Linked DNA regions of Homo sapiens. The protein of the gene in region 1 purifies or fractionates together with the protein of each later gene. This does not show direct contact. Each region holds a gene or a part of one and is shown in the gene's direction. Other genes may lie near its edges.

What was found.
Region 2: the proteins of CLDND1 (region 1) and GOLGA7 purify together in Homo sapiens (affinity purification with mass spectrometry; 5 studies listed by BioGRID and IntAct, with this or other methods). This does not show direct contact.
Region 3: the proteins of CLDND1 (region 1) and ZDHHC5 purify together in Homo sapiens (affinity purification with mass spectrometry; 4 studies listed by BioGRID and IntAct, with this or other methods). This does not show direct contact.

The regions. Positions count from the first base shown.
Region 1 is NC_000003.12:98,519,897-98,526,781, reverse strand, and holds the start of CLDND1 (claudin domain-containing protein 1), read left to right. Parts: upstream 1-3,879; 5' UTR 3,880-3,926; coding exon of another isoform or gene 3,927-3,933; exon of another isoform or gene 3,934-4,240; intron 4,241-5,078; exon of another isoform or gene 5,079-5,085; coding exon of another isoform or gene 5,086-5,129; intron 5,130-5,339; coding exon of another isoform or gene 5,340-5,357; coding exon 5,358-5,649; intron 5,650-6,885. UniProt on the Homo sapiens protein: Plays a role in negatively regulating the permeability of cells to small molecules.
Region 2 is NC_000008.11:41,486,726-41,493,605, forward strand, and holds the start of GOLGA7 (golgin subfamily A member 7), read left to right. Parts: upstream 1-3,856; 5' UTR 3,857-4,129; coding exon 4,130-4,240; intron 4,241-6,880. UniProt on the Homo sapiens protein: May be involved in protein transport from Golgi to cell surface. The ZDHHC9-GOLGA7 complex is a palmitoyltransferase specific for HRAS and NRAS.
Region 3 is NC_000011.10:57,663,626-57,671,137, forward strand, and holds the start of ZDHHC5 (palmitoyltransferase ZDHHC5), read left to right. Parts: upstream 1-4,488; 5' UTR 4,489-4,562; exon of another isoform or gene 4,563-4,971; intron 4,972-7,512. UniProt on the Homo sapiens protein: Palmitoyltransferase that catalyzes the addition of palmitate onto various protein substrates such as CTNND2, CD36, GSDMD, NLRP3, NOD1, NOD2, STAT3 and S1PR1 thus plays a role in various biological processes including cell adhesion, inflammation, fatty acid uptake, bacterial sensing or cardiac functions.

The DNA.
Region 1 (6,885 bases):
GTAGTTGCATTATTCTTCTTCCAGTAGAATTATAAACTGTAAAATTTTAGAGCTTCAAGTGGTGTTAATGATCATTAGTACAACTGTTTTACTAAAGAGGACCCTAGGGTCCAGAAAGGGGTCATTAACCAAAGATCCATTGATAATTTTTAAATAAAGGATAATTTAAACTTAAACTTCTCATTTACATATGGGTCATTCACTGTCTTTCAGAAGCATGGGCATCTAAAAATTATAGTTTTTTACTATATGTGGCACTTTACAGGAATTACTAAAAAAAAAAAGGAGACATTTTAGGTGCACTTTTCTATTTGCCTTGATCTTGATTCTGTTATTGTTCTACAGTGAATGGGTGCAAGGAAATTCAAAGATAGGTACATTTTTAAAAATGGTTTTTGGTTGGAACCCAGAATTGTACATATTCCCATTTTTTTCCTTTCTGAACTCCAAAGTTCACAAGGGAAACAACCAGAAAAAAAATTACATGAAGAAACATAATGTAAATATATCTTATAATGTAGATATAACTTTTAGTTCCTAAAAATGTGCAATTAAAAATAAAATATTAAATGTATTGGGGAATTTAGTATTGATGGAAATTCTAGTGTGAAGGGTTGTTTCATAAGTACATAATAAAAACAAGTTACAACATCTGAGTATCTAGATTTTCAGTTATCGGTTTTATTTTAAATGTGCTATAACTATAATGCCTTCCGGTTGAAACTAGAACCATCTTTAACAAGTTAAGCTAGATGTCTCATTTAACTTCGCTTTTAAACCTAAATTCCATAATCTCTACATGGTTGCACAAAATCATCTTTCATATTTGTGAAAATATAAGGCTAGCTACCGTTTCTCAAACAGCAGAGTAAGAAGCAGAAGTAGAAATTTAGCTCCATTAATTAATTAAGGATTTATTTTACCTACTCATACAACAAGCAAGCATAAATAGAAATTAGGAAACACCAAAGATGCAGAGATAAACCAGAAATACGGTTGTGTGGTTGGTGAAACTGGGTGTGAAGAGGCCGTTCAGGTCCTCTCTCAGGATGATCAAAACCACAAACACGTAGAGACACCTCCAGGTTCACACTAGGTTGGTCAGTGAAATGCGTCCTGAGTGTTTTCTAGGCATTCTGAAGACTTGAAGGGTGCAAGTGTCATCCTCCTTTGCAGGTCTTCCCAGAAACATCCACCTCCTGAGTCATGGCGACTTGTGTATGATACGATCCCAGGCCTGGGAATCTCCTGAGAAGGGTTAAACAGGGATGCCCAAAATACTAGCCCTGGCAAATTTTTCCTAGTCATTTGGTGGTTAGTCCAGAGCTTCTCAAACCTGCTGAAGCGAGCAGGAACACCTCTCTGTATAAATGGCTTATCTCCATTTAGGGGTAGCCTCTAGGGTTAATCCAGGAGCTTTAAAAGCTGTCTGTCTTTTTCTGTCCTGTTTTTCCCGGTCGCCGCACGCTGTCCCGGTCCGCGCCTGCTCCCTGCGTGCCTTGTCGCCATGCCTCCGAAAATTGAGGAAATCAAGGACTTTCTGTTCACAGCCCAATGAAAGGATGCTGAATCTGTCAAGATCAAGAAAAATAAGGACAATGTGAAGTTTAAAGTTCGATGCAGCAGATATCTTTATACCCTGGTCATCAGTGAAAAAGAGAAGGCAGAAAAACTGAAGCCAGTCCCTGCCTCCTAGTTTGGTAGTGAAGGAGTTGAAATGAACCAGCCACACTGATTTGAACTGTATTAGAATACAAAAAAAAAAAAAAAAAAAGACTGTTCTCACTAAGCTTACTCAAATATTATATTCAACAAATATTTGCAAATACTAATAACTTAATGATTCTTTCCTAAACCTCAGGTCCTGTGCTGGGCGTTTTATATGTTTTTCTCAATCTTCACAATGATCATGTGGGATAGATGCTACTGTCAACATCCATATTTTGGAGAAAAGACAACCGAGACTTAAAGAAGGTTAATTCTCCAAAGTCACAAAATGAGTATATTCAAGTGTGTTACCATGGTAGTCAGTTACTCTAATATCCAAGTTTGCTACCAAGTCAGTTACTCTCTCTAGTTCCTTTATCTGTAGACTGAAGTTGTTTCTTCTCTCTCCTTTAAACTTCTCTTTTGCCTGGTTTACTGACCACATGATCTCAGTGGAGAGGTAAATCTGAAAGTGGGGAATTTCTTTTTTTGAGGCAGAGTCTTGTTCTGTCGCCCAGGCTGGAGTGCAGTGGCGTGATCTTGGCTCACTGCAAGCTCCGCCTCCCGGGTTCATGCCATTCTCCTGCCTCAGCCTCCCAAGTAGCTGGGACCACAAGCGCCTACCAACACGCCTGGCTAATTTTTTTGTATTTTTAGTAGAGACGGGGTTTCACCGTGTTAGCCAGGATGGTCTCGATCTCCCGACCTCGTGATCTGCCGCCTCGGCCTCCCAAAGTGCTGGGATTACAGGCGTGAGCCACCATGCCCGGCGGAAAATAGGGGATTTCTAATGAAGGCCAATGGATGAAGACATTTCCTGGAGTATAAGGGCATTTATGTGTCTTACTACACATTGACAATTTGCCTGTGCCTCTCCATCACTTTCTCTAGTTGGTGCCTCTGACAAATTTTTTTTTGATTATATGCTGTATATGAAAATCCAGAGTCATGTTTGAATATATTTGGCTACTACCTTATTATGTGCTGCATATGAATATCAGTTTCACCCACTCAGGTCAAAGAAATGTAAGTACAGATAGAGAAACATATCATGCCTTTAATCTGTCAAAGTGGTAGAAATTTAATATCAACTTGCAGCTCCCATCTTTCTCCTATGCTAAATTACAAGGCATTAGGGGACAGAGTGGGGGTTTGAGAGCCCCTCTGGTCCTTGAGTCAGCTTTCTCTGTCGGTTACTGTTGAGAAATCCACCATTTGCTGGTCCCAGGCCACGTTAATAGTTCCACTCATGTTATTGTTAAGATGTCCCTGCTTCCTGTCCATGAATTTCTGTGTTAAACCTGAGGGTTCAGAATCATTGTTGCCCCTGTGCCACACATCATCTGCAATCTCCAATGCTGTCCATGACCTTATCTGCTTGAGTGATGTTCCCCAAATTTCAGTCTTTTTCCTACTATACCCACAATTTTTTATTCATTTTTTGACATATCTGGTATCCTCAGTATTATTAACTTAATAGTTTTTAAAATAAGTGAAAAGAATTTAAAAGGAACAACATTGCTGCAATAGAAAACTAGTATCACTTGTCATAAAAAGAAGGCAGCTACAAACACATTTTATGAAACCCAAATAATATCATTACATTCTTGATGGATACTGTCTGCCAGGTCACATACTTCTTAGCCTAAACTTATGCAATAAAACCAGAAGGATGCTCTGCTCCAATGGGAGGGATTCTGGGAGAGGGAAATAAAATGGGTCAACGTTTCACAAGTAGAATCCCATTTTTGTTCATTTATACTTAGATCTAGAGGCAGGGTGGTGTGATAGGGAAAGCACAGGCCTAAAAGTCAGATCTAAGTTATACAAGTCACGGTCATTGACTCGAGATGACCGGAAACAGGCCCGCTTTACTTTCTGGACCATTCTCCCTTCCTCCCTAAAATGCAAGAATCCAACAGCCTAGACTTCCCTTCTGCGTACCGGCTTGCCCTGAGGAGCTGAACTACATCTCCCACAATGCGCCGCGCGCGGCGCCAGGAATGCCTATCGCCGCCTCAGACAGCTTTCAGTCTGTCCCTCCTACAACTCCCACAAGGCCCCTCGGCCCCGGGCCGCGGCCCGGCCCGGAGTGGGGGCGGGCGGAGGCGCGGGAGTTATGGAGGGGGCGGGCTCTGCAGGGAAGTGCGTCAGAGGAGGCGCGGGGAGAGTAGGGTGCTGTGGTCTGAGCTAGAGGGTGAAGCTGGCGGAGCAGGAGGATGGGCGGTGAGTGAGCGGGACCTGCGTCGCCGGGCAGGGGTCGCGTCGCGGTTCCATGTTCCCGGCGGTTTGAAGAGGGGCCCCCTTCCCGGGCGTGGTCGGGCTGGGCGGGTTCCGAGCGGCGGATTTGTCCCAGGGCCGAGCCCTCTAGGGCGGGGCCTGGTCGGGTACCGGGGGACCCTGGCCCGGGGCCGAGCACGGCTGCCCCGCCCCAGCCCTGGCCTTCTCCGGCCCCGCCGTGAGGCCCAGGAGGTGGCTGCTGCAGGCGTCCGGCTTGGACGAACCGCCGTTCCCAGTGCTGGGACCCTTTAAGGTCATTTGAGAGCACCAGGATGAAGGGGGGATTTTTAAAAAATCAAAATACAAATCCAACTTTTTGAGTTTTCGTTGTCATTGCTCTTATCTTTCCTGAGTCACTTCCCATTTTCCAAACTCAGCAACCCCAGTTTGCGAGTCTGTTTTCATGAACCTTTGTAAGGTGTTTGGTGCGGTCACGGTGTATACTTGCCGTGTAGTATTTGACTCAGCGCGATCTGCCTTGAGTCATTTTACCGCGGCCATTTACTACTGCCGTTGAGCCCTGTCCACGCCTTGGGAGTGTTGATATGTTGAGAGTTTTCTGTCTGGCTGAGGAGGGATCATTTAGTTTTTGCGGACGTATGTTGCACTGAGGATTTAGGGAGAGAGCAAGATTTCTGTTGAGGAGGTTCAGAAGTATAAGGAATCGGGAGAGTAGATAGGAGTGAAGCATTTGGCAGCGTAAAGAAGCTTGGCTTAGCTTTAATGGATTAGGGAGAGATTGCTATCTAGCATTATTACATGTTATTGTTCTCTTTGCTATTTTATACACCTAGAACAACCTTTCCCTCGGGGTTAACAAACATCTTCAACTCTGTTTTCTGTATGGCTCCTGACTCTTACCTTTGTTTTAGGAGGCTTCCCTCTTCAGAGGAAACTGGGAGAAGCCAATTTCCACTGCTTCTTTTTCCTGTGCCTTTTTAACACTCAAACCCAGAACACTTAATCCTCTGCAGCTCGTGCAAAAATTCAGTCTGTAATTTAAAATGTGTGCACGGTACACTGCTGACCATGGGCATGTCTATTGTTTGTATCTGTAATGTGTATGTCCATTTCAGTGTTGTCTGTTTTAGTATGCAGGTGATAGACTAGAGAACAAGACCTCTGTCTCCGTAGCATCCTGGGTATGTGAGCATTCAATAAGTACTTTTATGAGAATGAGTTTTGTTTTAAGCTTAATTAAAAACATGCTTGCTTTCTAAAAAAAATTCTTAATGGTTATATGTACGAAGGGATGGGGAATTGGGTAAAGGGTGCATTTGGAATAATTCAAAATAATCTTTCTTATTTGTCCGTAAACTCTAACTTATCTTCTTTCTTCAACTTCTAAACAGAGCAGTCTGAATGCCAGAATGGATAACCGTTTTGCTACAGCATTTGTAATTGCTTGTGTGCTTAGCCTCATTTCCACCATCTACATGGCAGCCTCCATTGGCACAGACTTCTGGTATGAATATCGAAGTCCAGTTCAAGAAAATTCCAGTGATTTGAATAAAAGCATCTGGGATGAATTCATTAGTGATGAGGCAGATGAAAAGACTTATAATGATGCACTTTTTCGATACAATGGCACAGTGGGATTGTGGAGACGGTGTATCACCATACCCAAAAACATGCATTGGTATAGCCCACCAGAAAGGACAGGTATTTCTCTTATTTTAACTTCTGTCTTCTTCACCTGGTTAATAATAGACAAAACGACGTAATGATTGCCCAATTACATGTAAGCAGGTTTGTTGGTTCTCTCTCTCCTTAAAGAAATAAATCGTGTATCTTCTCTTTCTACTGCCTTCTCTCCCCAACTTCTTTGCATTACCATGGTACTCATCAATATTGGTTGGATGAGGAACTTTTCTTATCTTGGGAAAGCCTTAATGGCTTTTTTTTTTCTTATTTACTCACTCATTAAAATACTTTTCATTACTCTAACACATGTTATAAAGAAATAGTTGGAAAAGTACATCGAAAGACTTTTAAAAATATTTGGTAACTAGTAAAAGGACTACCATCGAAAATCAACTCAAAAAATTGTCCTTTTATGGGTTAGCTGTATTATAATACATATCTATCATTTGCCCCTGTGTCTTAGAGGATATAATTTGACCAGCTCTACATTTAATCTGTGTAATTATGAGACTGTTTTACAACAATCTTGATGCAGAGTTGGTAGGTTAAGAAATTTGTATTACAGAAGTTAAAAAAAAAAAACCAAAAACTAGATTTTTAGGTTTATTTTACAGGCATTCTTATTTAACACTTAAAGATTTTGATTTCCAGTTATTAAAATGGTAGCTTTAGAACTCTTTGTAAGGAACAACTTTACAGTTTATTTATGACTACTTCTGTTGGCCCCTTAGTGGGGAAGCATTGTATTCAAATCATAGCAGAACAGGCTTGAGTTATGATATATCAAAAGGATGATAATATGTCACTGTATCTGGAAAAAAAGATAATTTGGAAGGAAAGGAGAGAAAGTTGGTTAAAATTCATTGTAAAATGTTCAGTTTGACTTATGAGGTTACAGGAGCACTTGATATTGAAATTGGAGTTGGAATTGGAGTGTTACCATTTAGTCATTCATTAAACAAATAATTTATTGCATGTCTCCATGTTCCAGGGCCTCTTAGCTGGGAGAACATCAGGAAAGAACAAAATCCTTACTCCTGGGGAGCTAGCATTCTAATAAAGGATGACAGGCAGTGAACAGAATATAACAGTATAAACAGAATAAATAATTATTCAGTATGTTAAAAGATGACATGTGCTATGGCAAAATAGAACACAAAAGGGATTTGGAAATATGTGGGAAAAGGAATATTGGTGGCCATAGGTTATGATTTTCAATAGGATACTTAAAGTAGGTCTCATTGAGAAGACACC
Region 2 (6,880 bases), on another chromosome or scaffold:
GCATATAAACCGCTCAACCTAGTTCCTTAACACTAATAGCCCAATGAATAGTAGCTGCTGCTATCATGATGTTAATGTTAGCAAATCATTTGACTATGTCACTAATGATGTAATAATTTAAAAAAAAAACAGAGTACCATACAGTATTTGTTATGTGCCAAACACATTCTAAGTGTTTTACATACAATATCACATTGACACCCTCTACAAGGTAGATGTACTAGATTTAATAGTGTCCCCCAAAATCCATGTCAGTCGGGAACCCCAGATCCTTATTTGCAAATAGGGTCTTTACAGATGTAATCAGGTTAAGATGGTCAGACAGGATTAGGTGGGCCCTAAAGCCAATGAATAGTGCTCTTTATAAGGAGAGAAATATTTCAAGACACAGAGAAGATACAGGGAAGAAGGCCATGGGAAGATGGAGGCAGAAATTGCAGTTATGCTGTCATAAGCCAAGGAATTCCAAGGATTGCTGGTAACTGCCAGAAGCTATTTGGTTGGTACAAAAGTAATTGCTGTTTTACTTTTAATGGCAAAACTAGAATCTAGACACATGAGTGTGTTTAGGGATGAGGGAAGACGATAACAATACAGCTCATCGTCCTTTGATTCCTCTTTCACCTGGGATCGATCCTCTTCCCAAACATGAAGAGGGTTTTCCTTGGGTTATATTTGCCCTCAAATTTCCTCATTCAAAAATAATCTGTTTGCTGGGTGCAGTGGCTCACGCCTGTAATCCCAGCACTTTGGGAGGCCGAGGCGGGTGGATCACGAGGTCAGGAGTTCAAGACCAGCCTAGACAACACGGTGAAACCCCGTCTCTACGCAAAAAAATACAAAAATTAGCTGGGTGTGGTGGCACGCACCTGTAATTCCAGCTACTCGGGAGGCTGAGGCAGGAGAATGGCTTGAACCCAGGAGGCGGAGGTTGTGGTGAGCCGAGATCGTGCCACTGAACTCCAGCCTGGGCGACAGAGTGAGATCCATCTCAAAAAATAATAATAATAGTCTGTTTTACCACCTAGTCTCAGTGGCCAAGGGCTGCAGGAAAATACTCCAAATATACAATGTATGAAAATTGTTTTCTTCGTTCACTCCATTAGACTGAAATTTTGAGGGTAGAGACTGTTTTACCTGTTTAAGGGTGTTCTCAACCCCTAGTAACAAATATGTAGAAAACCAGCTCCTAGGAGATCTTACTGAGTTAGTAAGGAAGCATCAACTTCGGAGACAAACACTAGTAGACATTTAATTCAAAACAGGATCAGATCATGAAACGGAATAGAAAGTCCAAAACAGGCAGACAGAGGGACAGACAGACAGACACACACACACACACACACACCACTGATTTTCTTTTTCTTTTTTTTTTTTTTTTTTTTTTTGAGACAGAGTCTCGCTCTTTAGCCCAGGCCGGAGTGCAGTGGCACTATCTCCGCTCACTGCAAGCTCCGCCTCCCGAGTTCACCCCATTCTCCTGCCTCAGCCTCTCGAGTAGCTGGGACTTATAGGCGCCCGCCACGGCGCCCGGCTCATTTTTTGTATTTTTAGTAGACACGGGGTTTCACCGTGTTAGCCAGAATGATCTCGATCTCCTGACCTCGTGATCCGCCCGCCTCGGCCTCTCAAAGTGCTGGGATTACAGGCGTGAGCCACCGCGCCCGGCCCCCACTGATTTTCAACAGAGATACAAAGGCAATTCAGTGAAGAAATGAGAGTCTTTTCAACAAATGGTACGTAAACAACTGAATAACAACTGCATAATCATACGGGGGGAGGGAAGAGTTTCACTCTATACCTATGGGAGGCAGAAATGCCCTCCCCAAGAGGTCCACACCCTAATCCCCTCAAACCCCTAACGTGTTAAGAGAGTAAAAAGACAAATCACAGACTGTGAAAAATGCATGCAAATCACATATCTGATAAAGGATTTTTCTCCAGAATGTATAAAGAACTCAAAACTCAAAAACAGCCCGGCCAAGTTCTCACGCAAGTATAAAGGCCTCAGGAAAACATCTTTAAACATACAAAAATCCAAGAATTAAAGTGCCTTAAAAATTTAAAACTGACCTTAAGCCCAGCCAATAAAGATGTAAATCAAAACAAAATAAAACAAAAAACCCCTCAACAACAGGAAAATAAAATACAAACAAAAAAATGGGCAAAAGTTTTAAATAGACACTTCACCAGAGAAGATACATGGATGGCAAATAAGTACAGGAAAATATGTTCAAAATAATTAGTCATGGAAAAATGAAAATTATAGCTGCAGAAGATATTACTACCCAAGTCTTGGCAAAGATGTGGAGCAACTGGAACTCTGGTGGGAATGCAAAATGGTGTCACCACTTTGGAAAACAGTTTGTCAGTCTGCCAAAAAGTTAAACGTGTTTTTACCGTACAATCTAGCCATTCTACTCCTAGGTATGTACCCAAGAGAAATGAAAGCATTAAGGTCTACACACCTATGCAAAGACTTGCAAATGAATGTCCATAGCAGCTTTATTTGTAACATCCCAAAACTGGAAGCAATCCAAATGTCCATCAACAGATGAATGGATAAACAAACTGTGGGATGGCCATACAATGGAATAGCTATCCAGCATCAAAAATAAATGAATTATTGATAACACAACAACAGATGGACTTCAAAATAGTCTATGTGAAAGAAGCCAGGCAAAAAAAGGGGGTACACACTATATGATTCAATTTATATAAAATTCAAGGAAATGAAACTAATGTTGAGTGACAGAAGGTGGATCAGTGCCTGGGAAATGGGGTCTGGGAGAGGCAGGAGGGAGAGATTACACAGGAGCTGGAGGAACCTTTTCAGGGCAATGGAGCTTTACTATCTTGATTGTGACAGTGGTTTATGGGTGTATTCATATGTCCAAAGTTATCAAATCCACTGCTTTAAATGTGTGGTTTATTGTATGCCATTTATATCTCGAAAAAGCTGTTTTTAAAATACAGTAAGAGAATTTTTCATATTTAAAAGGCAGGATATTTAAACTATATTAAATATATAAAAGACAGTGGTACTAACAGGTTGTATTAGCAGGAGACAAGGGTAAGGTGGGGTTTCTTTGGCTGCCTTGCAAAGAAATGCTGAGTCAAGTAAGGGCCAGTGGGCAACGAGGGCGGAACCACTTGTCCCCTTGGTCACCTGAGGGATGTGGATGGGAGCTGGGTGGAAATGGGGGGTGAGAGGAACGCCGCCCCCAAAGAAGAGTCGGGGCAGGGGCGCCCAACGCTGGGGCCCAGGCAGGTTCTTCGTCCTCACTTCCTGACCCTTTCTCAAGAGTCTAGGGACCAAATGGATCCATCCTTGGAGCCTGCTTTCTACTTCTGAACACAATGAGCAGTTTGTGTTTGAGGGTTTGGGGAGGGGGTGTTGTTTTTTCTTTATGTTTTGTTTTTTGTTTTGTGTATGAGTTGGGTGGCATAACCCACACGTAAGCTGCGACGTCCAATCAAGAACGAAAATGACCCCTCACAATCAGTGATCGGGAACCACCTGCCACAATCACTAGGGAAGTGACACAGCCGGGAAACTCCGCCCCTCACACCCCCGCGCGCTCGCGCCGGCCGCAGCCCCACAGCTCGCCCCGGCCGCAGCCCCACAGCTCGCCCCGCCTCTCTCCTTCCGGAAACAATCCCCGCGCGGGCGGAAGGCGGGGTCGGCCCTGGCCCCGCCCACATCATTTCCCTTCCTCGGCCCAGCCCCACAGCGCGCAGCTTCGGCAGGGTGGCTTTACGGCCGGAGGAGAGGGTGGGTCCCAGACCTGAGGTAGGAGGCCGAGCTGAGGGGCGGGGAAGAGGCTTTTTGCGGCAGGACGTAAGTGACGGCGAAGGCGGTGCGACAGCAGCTGGAGGGCAGAGGAGGCGGGTTTGTGTTTCCCGGGCCGAACCGGGTTGTGGGGGGCGCGGGGCCTGGGCCAGGCGGCAGCTAAGGCCCGCGGTGACAGCATGGGTGAAGGGGAGCGGGGCAGAGGAGGCCTTGGGCTGTTTTCGGCGGCGGGTGGGGGCGAGGGGCTGGCGGGTCAGAGTCCCGGGTCCAGGCCGGGGCTCTGACTCGCGGTTGGTGTTCCCCCGACCCCGCAGCGCGGGGTGTCCTGTCCTCGCCATGAGGCCGCAGCAGGCGCCGGTGTCCGGAAAGGTGTTCATTCAGCGAGACTACAGCAGTGGCACACGCTGCCAGTTCCAGACCAAGTTCCCTGCGGAGCTGGAGAACCGGGTACGCAACCTGGCTCCCCACGCCTGCTCTGGCGAGGGAGAGAGACTCACCGGGGACGGGAAGGGTGTGGGCGACAACCGGGCCTTTGAGGGTCCCGCAGTTCTGGGGAGGTCCAGGCACAGAAGGGGCCTTGGCCAAACGTGTAAGAAGAGAGCCACTAAGCAAGACAGGTGTTTGGAGCAGGAAGAATAATATAGGCCGATCGCCGGGGTTGACGACCTTATGGAACTTTGTTGCCCGGTGCCGGGAATCTGGATCCAGCAGTGTTCCCCTGCTGCACTCCCCCAAATCCCCACCCCGGGTTATTGTCGGCAGCGATGAGGAGCCAATTCCTGAGGCTCCAGGTCGTCTCAGTCACCAGGTTGTAAACTATATCCTCCTACCTCTCCGCGCAAGATAAATCATCATCATTCTCGTGACTGGTGTTTGCTGCCTCTGTGCTGGCCGCACTGTTTGGCTGAAAGGGTTTATTAGGTGCATGGCCAGGCGGTGCGTTCAGGCTTTCTTGGAACCTTAAAGACGTCGGGCGTTAGATAGGCCTGGACAGGAAAATGTCTCAGAACAAGGCCTTAAACTTGTCACATTCACTGGGAGCCACCTGTTTTGTCTTGCATATCAAAATGGTCATCAGGATATAGGTCCTTTGGGCAACATTGCAGGCAAAAATGGAAGAATGGGATTTGCTTCCCCTTCAGACCTAGCAAAACTTTAAAAAAAAAAAAAAAATCATTGTATCTTGTTGTAGAGGTAATGGAGTGTGTGCGTGCCTGCCTGTGTTTTTGTGTGCCCACATATGTACATTCAACCAAAGATTCTTTTGGTCTTGACCCATGTTATGTAGATTGTGTTTCCCGTTCAGGGATCAATTTCTGGTTAGCTGGAAGCAGGTTTTGTGGCTCTCTCCTCTGTGACAGGGAGGACGAGGGCCTGAGAGGTGATTAGGCATTCCTTGGGTGTGGGACTGAGAGATGCTGGTCATGGGATAAGTGGGTGTGGATGAGTCTGTGTAGAGAAATGTGTAGCAGTTATTTACAGTCAGTTTGCAGTGAGGTGGGTTGCACTGCCCGATTTCCATGGTTGGGAAATCAACAATGATCCATTATAGTTTCCTTCAGTTTGACATAACCATGGGCAGCTTCATGGCCCAAATATGTTTCTTGAATTGCAAATGGATCAAATATGCCTTTAAAAGATGGTGAGGTGACTTGTTTCTGAAATGCCATTTAAATGCTGCAGTATGTTGTCAACTATGTTATGAGTTAACTGAGCGTGACAATAGGTGGAACTATCTACAGTGGTTTGAAGAGGTAGAAATTCAGCAAGTGGCCAGTTGGGTAGAGCTACTGAATGTTGTTTTAAAATAATTTAACATCACAATTGATGTGTTTTACATGTTAAGATTGACATGGAATCTGGCTGGGCCCGGTGGCTCACGCCTGTAATCCCAGCACTCTGGGAGGCCGTGGCGGGTGCATCACTTGAGGTCGGGAATTCAAGACCAGCTTGGCCAACATGGTGAAACCCCATCTCTACTAAAAATACAAAAATTAGTCAGGCATGGTGGCGGGCACCTGTAATCCCCGCTACTCAGGAGGCTGAAGTAGAAGAATTTCTTGAACCTGGGAGGCGGAGGTTGCAGTGAGCCGAGATCATGCCATTGTACTCCAGCCTGGGCGACAGAGCAAGACTCTTGTCTCAAAAAATAAATCAAATAAAAAGATATACATGGAATCAATCAAATGTTTTATTTTTAAGCCTCTTACGGAAACTATGACATACAATTTATGTACTTCAAAATCAGAATATAAAGTATTCTTTTTTTACCACAATTATTTGGACATTAAAGATTCCTTTGCTTTAAGGTTTTAAAGCAACACTTACACCTCATATATTTGAGCTAAATGTGTATACACAGAATCAGACATTAGCCTTCCACTCTGTGTGTGGCAGAGCCTTTATTTTGTAATCTAAGTGCAAAAGCACAATGTAGTTACTGTGCTCCACTGATTCTTGTCAGGAAATTGATGTTTCTAAATTCTGGAGTCCTTTTACCTCTTTGACTCTGTATAGCCCAGAACTGCTTGTGGTACTGAGTACTATATGGAATGTTACATGGCACTCTTCAATTGTGCCTTTGAATTTCTTTTTTCTTTTTAAATGTTTGGGTTAAAACACTAGCTTATGCTTTAAACCACTAGAAAAGCTTTGATTGTCTGTGTATGTGTGTTGAGATTAAATTTAAATTACAGGTTTAAACTTTCCTTGCTTTGATGAAAAATTGAAAGGTTTCTGTTTCTCTACTACTTACCCTAGAAATTTTACTGATTGCTCTGCTATTGGAGCTGATTTTCCTTTTGTGAGAACATCACACTTGGCAACATAATAGAGAAAGTGACTAATATGCAAGTGTTTTGTATTATTTTAAAGCATTTTTTAAAAATACACACACATTTGTGCCCTTTAATTTGGGAGTAGGATAGGTTCTGTCTGTTAACAAGTTCATTTTCTCTGCTGCCTTTTAGAATGTAATACTTTGATGCTTAAGCGATTTGTTGCCAGAACAATTCCTTAAAGGAAACTTTATTCTCATTAGCCTTAAAATACAGATATCTTAGTTACCCTTGGTCTGGGTAGAAGAAT
Region 3 (7,512 bases), on another chromosome or scaffold:
GAACTTCTGGGCTTAAGTGATCCGCCCACCTTAGTCTCCTGAGTAGCTGGGACTACAGGCTCATGCCACAGCACCTGGTTTAAGAATGGATTTTACTCTTAAGAGCAATGGGAACCAGAGGGGAGGGGTAGTTAAGTAGAGTAATTATTTGATCTTTTTTTTTTTGGGGGGGGACAGAGTTTCATTCTTGTTGCCCAGGCTGGAGTGCAATGGCGCAATCTGGCTCAGTGCAACCTCCACCTCCCAGGTTCAAGCGAGTCTCCTGCCTCAGCCTCCCGAGTAGCTGGGATTACAGGCATGCGCCACCATGCCCGGCTAATTTTGTGTTTTTAGTATAGATGGGGTTTCTCCGTGTTGGTCAGGTTTGTCTCCGACTCCCGACTTCAGGTGATCCGCCCGCCTAGGCCTCCCAAAGTGTGGGATTACAGGCGTAAGCCAGCACGCCCGGCTGATCTCCTCCCTCCCTTCCCTCTTTCTTTCTTCCTTTCCTTTCTTTTCCTTTCCTTTCCTTTCCTCTTTCCTCTCTCCCTCCTTCCTGCTCTCTTTTTCTTCTCTCTTTTTTCTTCTCTTTTTCATTCCTTCCCCTTCCTTCCTATTCCTTCCTTTCCTTTCCTTCCCTCACCTCCTCTCCTCTCTCCTCCCCTTCCCTCCCCCTTTCCTTCCCTCCTTCTGAGTTTTGCTATGTTGCCCAGGCTAGAGTGCTGTGGCATGACCTCGGTGCACTGCAACCTCTGCCTCCTGGGTTCAAGTTATTCTCCTGCCTCAGCCTCCTGAGTAGCTGAGTAGCATGCACCACCATGCCTGGCGAATTTTTGTATTTTTAGTAGAGATGGGGTTTTGCCATGTTGGCCAGGCTGGTCTCGAACTCCTGACCTCAAGTGATCCATCCGCCTCGGACTCCCAAAGTGCTGGGATTAGCCTGGCTGATTACTTTACATTTTGAAAAGATCACTGCTTTGTGGAGAGTGGGTTATAGGGCAAGTGTAAAAGCAAGGACAGTAATTAGGAGAGTTTTGTAAAAGTGCAAATGTGAGAAATGGTGGGGGATGAAATACTAGGGCAGCAGAGGTAGAGCTGGTGAGAGGATATTCTGAAGGCAGGACTTCATAACGGAGTGGTGAGGAAAACGATGGAATCAAGGATGCATCCTGGATTTTTTTTAACAAGACACACTAGGTTAGACATGAGATTGGGAAAACTCAGGGAGTTGTCCCCCTGAGGGACAAGGGAAACTCGAGGTTTTTGGCAGTGTTAAATATGAGCTATTAATTGTCCATGGGTGGCGGAGGTTGCAGTGAGCTGAGATCGCGTCACTGCACTCCAGCCTGGGTAACAGAGCAAGACTCCATCCCCCAGCACCAGAAAAAATGCAGGAGCGAAGGAGATAGGATCCACAGCACAAAGGGAAGAACTACCCTTTAACACATACAGAGACATTTCACAAGGACAGGAGGAAAGAGCAGTATTTAAACACAAAGAGGTTGACCAGGAGCAGTGGCTCAGACCTGTAATCCCAGCACTTTGGGAGGTCGAGGCAGGCAGATCACTTGAGCTCAGCAGTTGGAGACTACCCTGGCCAACATGGTGAAACCCTAAAAACACAAAAATTGGGAAATGCATGTTCTAGCTTTCTGTGTGCTTAGGTGCCCATGCTACTGAGGGTCTAAGTCCAGGCAGCCGAAGAGTGTGGTGAGCAAGATGAACAAAGATGCGCAGATGAGAGAAGCCATTAACATATTAAAGTAATTTAAAGTTTGGGTGGTCTGGATATCATACTGTTTTAGCCTAGATTTTACTCTGGATACTTTTCAGAAGTAGCTGGCACTTTAAACCATATGTTCTATTAAACGTTCTTTCCAAGAAATATCTTGAGTGATCCCAAGGAAAACTGGACAAGTGGAATCTCTGTCTTTCAACTTTGGGATAGTGATTATACCTCTGTTAGTGCTCATCCACCTAACAAAGCTTGGCAATCCAAGTTAGTATCCCAGGGGAGTTTAGTTTGGTTGGATGGTGGAAGACTGATTTTTTTTTTCCATTTAGCACTGTCTAGCCAAGAGACACCACTATTTACAAGTTCTTAGACAGCTGAAAGGAAAATAAAAATGCCTAATTTGTGGAGGAAATCAGGAAGTCTAAAAATCCAAGAAAAATATTGCAACAGAAAAATGAAAGCTGACTTCATCTTAAAGAAACATGGCTTACAGGTAGAAAATGCCAATATCAGGCCGGGCACTGTGGCTCACACCGGTAATCTCAGCACTTTGGGAGGCCGAGGTGGGAGGATCATTTGAGGTCAGGAGTTCCAGACCAATGTGGCCATCATGGTGAAACCCCATCTCTACTAAAAATACAAATATTAGCCAGGTGTGGTGGCACATGCCTGTGATCCCAGCTACTCAGGAGGCTGAGGCATGAGAATTGCTTGAACCCGGGAGGAGGTTGCCATGAGCTGAGATCGCGCCACTGCACTCCAGCCTGGGTGACAGTGTGAGACTCCCTCTCAAAAAGTAAAAAATAAAATATCAATATTGTATCTTCAATAATTTACCTTTCATATGGTCTAAAGAGGTTTTTGTTTTGTTTTGAGACGGAGTCTTGCTCTGTTGCCCAGGCTGGAGTGAAGTTGTGTGGTCTCGGCTCACGGCAACCTCTGCCTCCCGGGTTGAAGCAATTCTCCTGCCTCAGCCTCCCGAGTAGCTGGGATTACAGGCTCCCCCGACCATGCCCGACTAATTTTTGTATTTTTAGTAGAGGGAGTTTCACTATGTTGGCCAGGCTGGTCTTGAGCACCTGACCTCGTGATCCGCCTGCCTTGGCCTCCCAAAGTGCTGGGATTACAGGTGTGAACCACCACGCCAGGCCAGGTCTGTTTTAAAAATATAAAGTCGTTATAAAGAACTCTCAAGTGTGTTGCAATAAATGCTGGATTGACGCTGTTAACAAGAATAAACTAGAACTTATAATATATGCCATGTCAGAGAAGGAACTAGATTCCAGAAAACAGAAGGTAGTTCTCTTTTACCTTACTGCCTAATGCTAGTGTCAGAACCACAGTAAAGCCAGCAACATTTGAGACCAAACCCGAGGACAGTCCTCAGGATTTTACAGGTGAGGGGCCTCGGCTTCAGGGAAGTGGCTTGTGAAACACCTTTTTGAGGGACCATTATGTAATAGCTAGAGTTGCTTTCGAAAAAAGAAATAGCCTCGAGCCGAATGGGGAGAGAACATGGGGCATTGCTATTGGGTTCACAGCTGTCTTGGGCTAATCAGGGCAAAGCGTAGCACTATGACCTATGCAGAGTTAGCTCGCCAGGGACAGTAGCTATTCTAGAGAACCTTTTGCTTTTAGCTTTGTATTCTAGGATTGGGTGAGGTGAGGGATGCGGGCGCCCATCCCACGTGTGACAGTGGGAAACTAATGGAATTCAGGGAGTTCACTTCCCGGCTCGCACTCCGGGGGCGGGAGGGTGCTGCCACCGCCTCAGGTCGCGCGCTCCTTAGGCTTCCCTCTCACGGTTAGCGCTACGGCTCCAAGGCTGGCGCCTGCTCTTCTTCATCTCCCTCCCCGGCCCTTGGCAGGAGCCTCGCCCTACATTGGCTCTTCAAGTCCGGGCGTCCCCTTCATGTGGGAGACACAGCCCAGACCATTCCATCGCCCTGGATTCTGCCCGGACCAGCGACCTCGCCGGACTGAAGATTTCTCCAGCAAGATTGTTTTAAATAAAGTTTTTGCCATCAAAAAAAAAAAAAAAAAAAAAAAAGGAGATGGGAAGGAGAAGAGGGAGGCCTAGTCGCCAAATGGTTGGCCAATCCGCCGCGAAGGGGCTGAAGCAGGAAGCGGCGATAGTCGTCGGTAATTGGCTGCGCTGGAAGCCTGTCTGGACTGTACCACCTCAGTAGGAGAGGGGTTGCTGAATTCGAGAAGGTAGCTGCTTGCTTTTGAGTACTTCTAGTACACACACATAATTCTTTTCTTATTTCCGGGGGTTTTTGCTTGGATTCAGTGGGAATACAACAGGACGCAGGAGAAGGGAAGACTCGCCTGGCCATTTCCTCATTCCTGACTCCTGTGCATTAGGCCAATCCTTGTCTCTTAGTTGTCCCCGCAACCCCACGGCCTTACGTGCGCGCTCTCGTCTTCTCGCGTGCGTACGTCGTTGTGTTGCTGCAGCCAATCAGGCCGCGAGGTCGCCGCGGTCGCCAGGGTTCGCGCGCACGCCCCAGATCGGAGTCGGGGTGGGGGCTATGGGTGAATGGGAGAGTGAGCGGGGTTGGGCGCGGCAGCGCGAGCCGCATGAATGAGACAAACGTGCGCCGCGCGAGACGTCGCGCGAGCCCGGACTAGGGAGCCAATGGGAACGCTGGAAGGGTTCGAGACCCGGCACTGAGGGCAACGGCCGCGCGCCGGCTCCGAGACGAGCGACGCCTGGCGGGAGCGCGCGGCAGCGGGGCGGGCGTGGAGCGTGCGGGGGCCGCGCGCTGCTTCTCTGAGGCAGGACGGCACTGCCGGGAGGCGGCGGTGACAACGACGGCGGTGGTGACGGGCACCGGGCTCGCGGGTGAGTGCGGAGGACACCGGTCCCTGCGGAACCGGAAGTGCCGTACCAGCGAGGTGGGAGGGGAGGGTGACCTCTAGGGAAGGGGGACCGAAGACGGGGAGGGTATTAAGGCCCTATTTCTCCTCCGGGCCGGGTCTTCCAACCGCGGCGGGACCCATGGGCCTTGGAAACGGACGACGAGTAGAGGCCGGGGATCCACGACCGCCAGGGCTCGGAACGGGTTAGAGACGGCCACTCAGCTCGAGACCGCGGTCCCCGGTGCCTGGCGCCCAGCCGCCGCCCCTTCCGCCCCCGGCCCTGCGCCCTCGGGCTCTGCGGTCCCCGCAGCCCGCTCTCTCAACCTCGGTGGGCCTGGCCGCCGTGGATTCCTTCTTTTCGGTTTCAGCGGTCGTCAGCCCTGCCCCAACGGGTGATTCTCCTTTCCCCAGTCCCGTGGTGGGGACCGGGTGCTGTTTCCCTTTTACCGCTCTGCGGTTCGAGTCCCTCGCTCCACTCTGCTGATACTTATTTTGGCTCAAGCTTCATCCTGTTACCTGTTCTCTCTCACCCGTCCGCTTCCTCCTCCTACCGCCACCAGCCGAGTGCTCCATGCGTTTAGTACTTTGTACTTTTTAAAGTGGAGCCCGAATGCGTTTGTCAATATTTTACCTATATTTGGGGCAGGCAGGTGGAAAGTGTTTTACCCACTTGGCCAAATGAAACACTGAAATAAGAAGTAAGAAAGTTGCTAAAAGTTAGGAAGGCAGTTGTAGGATCACATATACGTTATACGCTAGACTATTTTTTGCCTTGGATTCTTCACTTCCTGGTTAATGCCATCTTGACCAAGTTGATCTAACATTTGCATATCATCCTTCTATCTCAGTATACCTCTGTCCTGGATCAAATATCTTCAGAATGCTCATTATCACCCATTGTATAAACTTAATGTTTACAAAATTATATTGCCATGTATTTTGCTACCTCGGTATATAATGATAACACCCACATTAAACTTCTTGGCTCTTTCTCCCATACCTTGACATGTGAATTATTCCATGGTACCTCCATTACTGTGCATTTAGATTTACTCTATTGTACTGTTACACCGCTTATTTCAACAAAAAATAGTTGTGTTGTCCTTGGTACTGCTGGTATCCACCTATTTAAGGAAATACCTGTATTAAACCTTATTAAAGCCTTCAAACCACATATCCTGTATTGTTTGTTTTACATATACATATTTCCATTTCATAGTTTACTCTGTGCCTCAATATGGCATACATATTACTTTTTTTCTCATTTTTGAGACGGAGTCTGGCTCTGTCGCCCAGGCTGGAGTGCAGTGGCTGCTATCTTGGCTCACTGCAACTTCCACCTCCCGGGTTCAAGCGATTCTCGTGTCTCAGCCTCCCTAGTAGCTGGGATTTCAGGCATGCCCCATCACGCCCTGCTCATTTGTTTGTATTTTTAGTAGAGACAGGGTTTTGGTATGTTGGCCAGGCTGGTCTCGAACTCCTGACCTCAAATGATCCGCCCGCCTCGGCCTCCCAAAGTGCTGGGATTACAGGCGTGAGCCCCCGTGCCCAGCTGGCATACATATTCTTGTATACTTTTTTGATACTAGTATGGATTCAAACTGTTGACTCTGATGAACCATACTCACCCTTGTGGTTTCATCCTAGTATCTGCAGCACATTCTTTTGCTAAGAATTGGTTCATCTTTATTTATACCCAATAAATTGTTAGGTTTTTGATTTCCCTTCTACTGTGTAGCCCCCAAGCATCTCAGATGCTGTTCTCTTTTGTGTTCCCAGTATTATACTCCCAAAATTGCATGGCCTTTCATGACTCTGTATTACTATGTCAATATTAGTCCATGTGACTTTTTTCCTGTGGAAAATATATGAAACAATATATAGTATCTAAATGATATTCTACTCTAGATAAAATTTAAGTAGTATAATTTTCCATCTTTTCTAGTCTTTGGGATTTTGAGGGAAAAGTTTGCTTTAATAGTACATATTGGCTGGGCAGAGTGTCTCACACCTGTAATCCCAGCACTTTGGGTGAGGAGGCAGATCACCTGGAGGTCAGGAGTTCGAGACCAGCCTGGGCAACATGGTGAAACCCCATCTCTACTAAAAATACAAAATTAGCTGGGTGTGGTGGTGCCCTCCTGTAATCCCAGCTGCTCGGGAGGCTGAGACAGGAGAATTGCTTGAATCCGGGACTCGGAGGTTGCAGTGAGCTGAGATCACACCATGCACTTCAGCCTGGGTGACAGAGGGAAACTGTGTTTCAAAAAAAAAAAAAAAGTACATATTGTCTACAAATCAAGAGTTTGCTTTTGTTAACAAAGTTACTGAGGCCTACATTCCAAATGTTAGGCTTCCATTCCTGTAGGAAACTGAGAGTTAAATAATCATTAAATCAGGGACTAGAGAGGATTTATGTTTTCTAGGACTATAACAGTTTCTTAGAATCTTTTGGCGCTCACTGTATTCTAATACTGCTGTTTGGCCCTCTGAAACCCTAATTTTAAAGAGAGAAATGAATCGTAAGGGAAGGCACCTTTGCCTTCCATGCCATAGGTGAGAGAGGAAGTGGTACATTATAGGGCACATTTATATTTTGTTATCTGAATCTTCTGATTTTTTTTTTTTTTTTTTTGAGACAGAGTCTTGCTCTGTTGCCCAGGCTGTAGTGCAGTGGCTCACTGCAACCTCCGCCTCCTGGGTTCAAGTGATTCTCCTGCCTCAGCCTCCTGAGTAGCTGGGACTACAGGCGCCCGCCCGGCTAATTTTTGTATTTTTAGTAGAGAAGGGAATAAAACTACTTTCTTTTAAAATTCTAACTTAAAATTTTTGGCTTGCAGATTCCAAGTTATCATCTCTGGGCAGGTAGTGGATGAAAAGGTAGAAAGGGTTTGTGTCACCAGAGGGGCATGTGACCTCTTGAGTTCTGAACC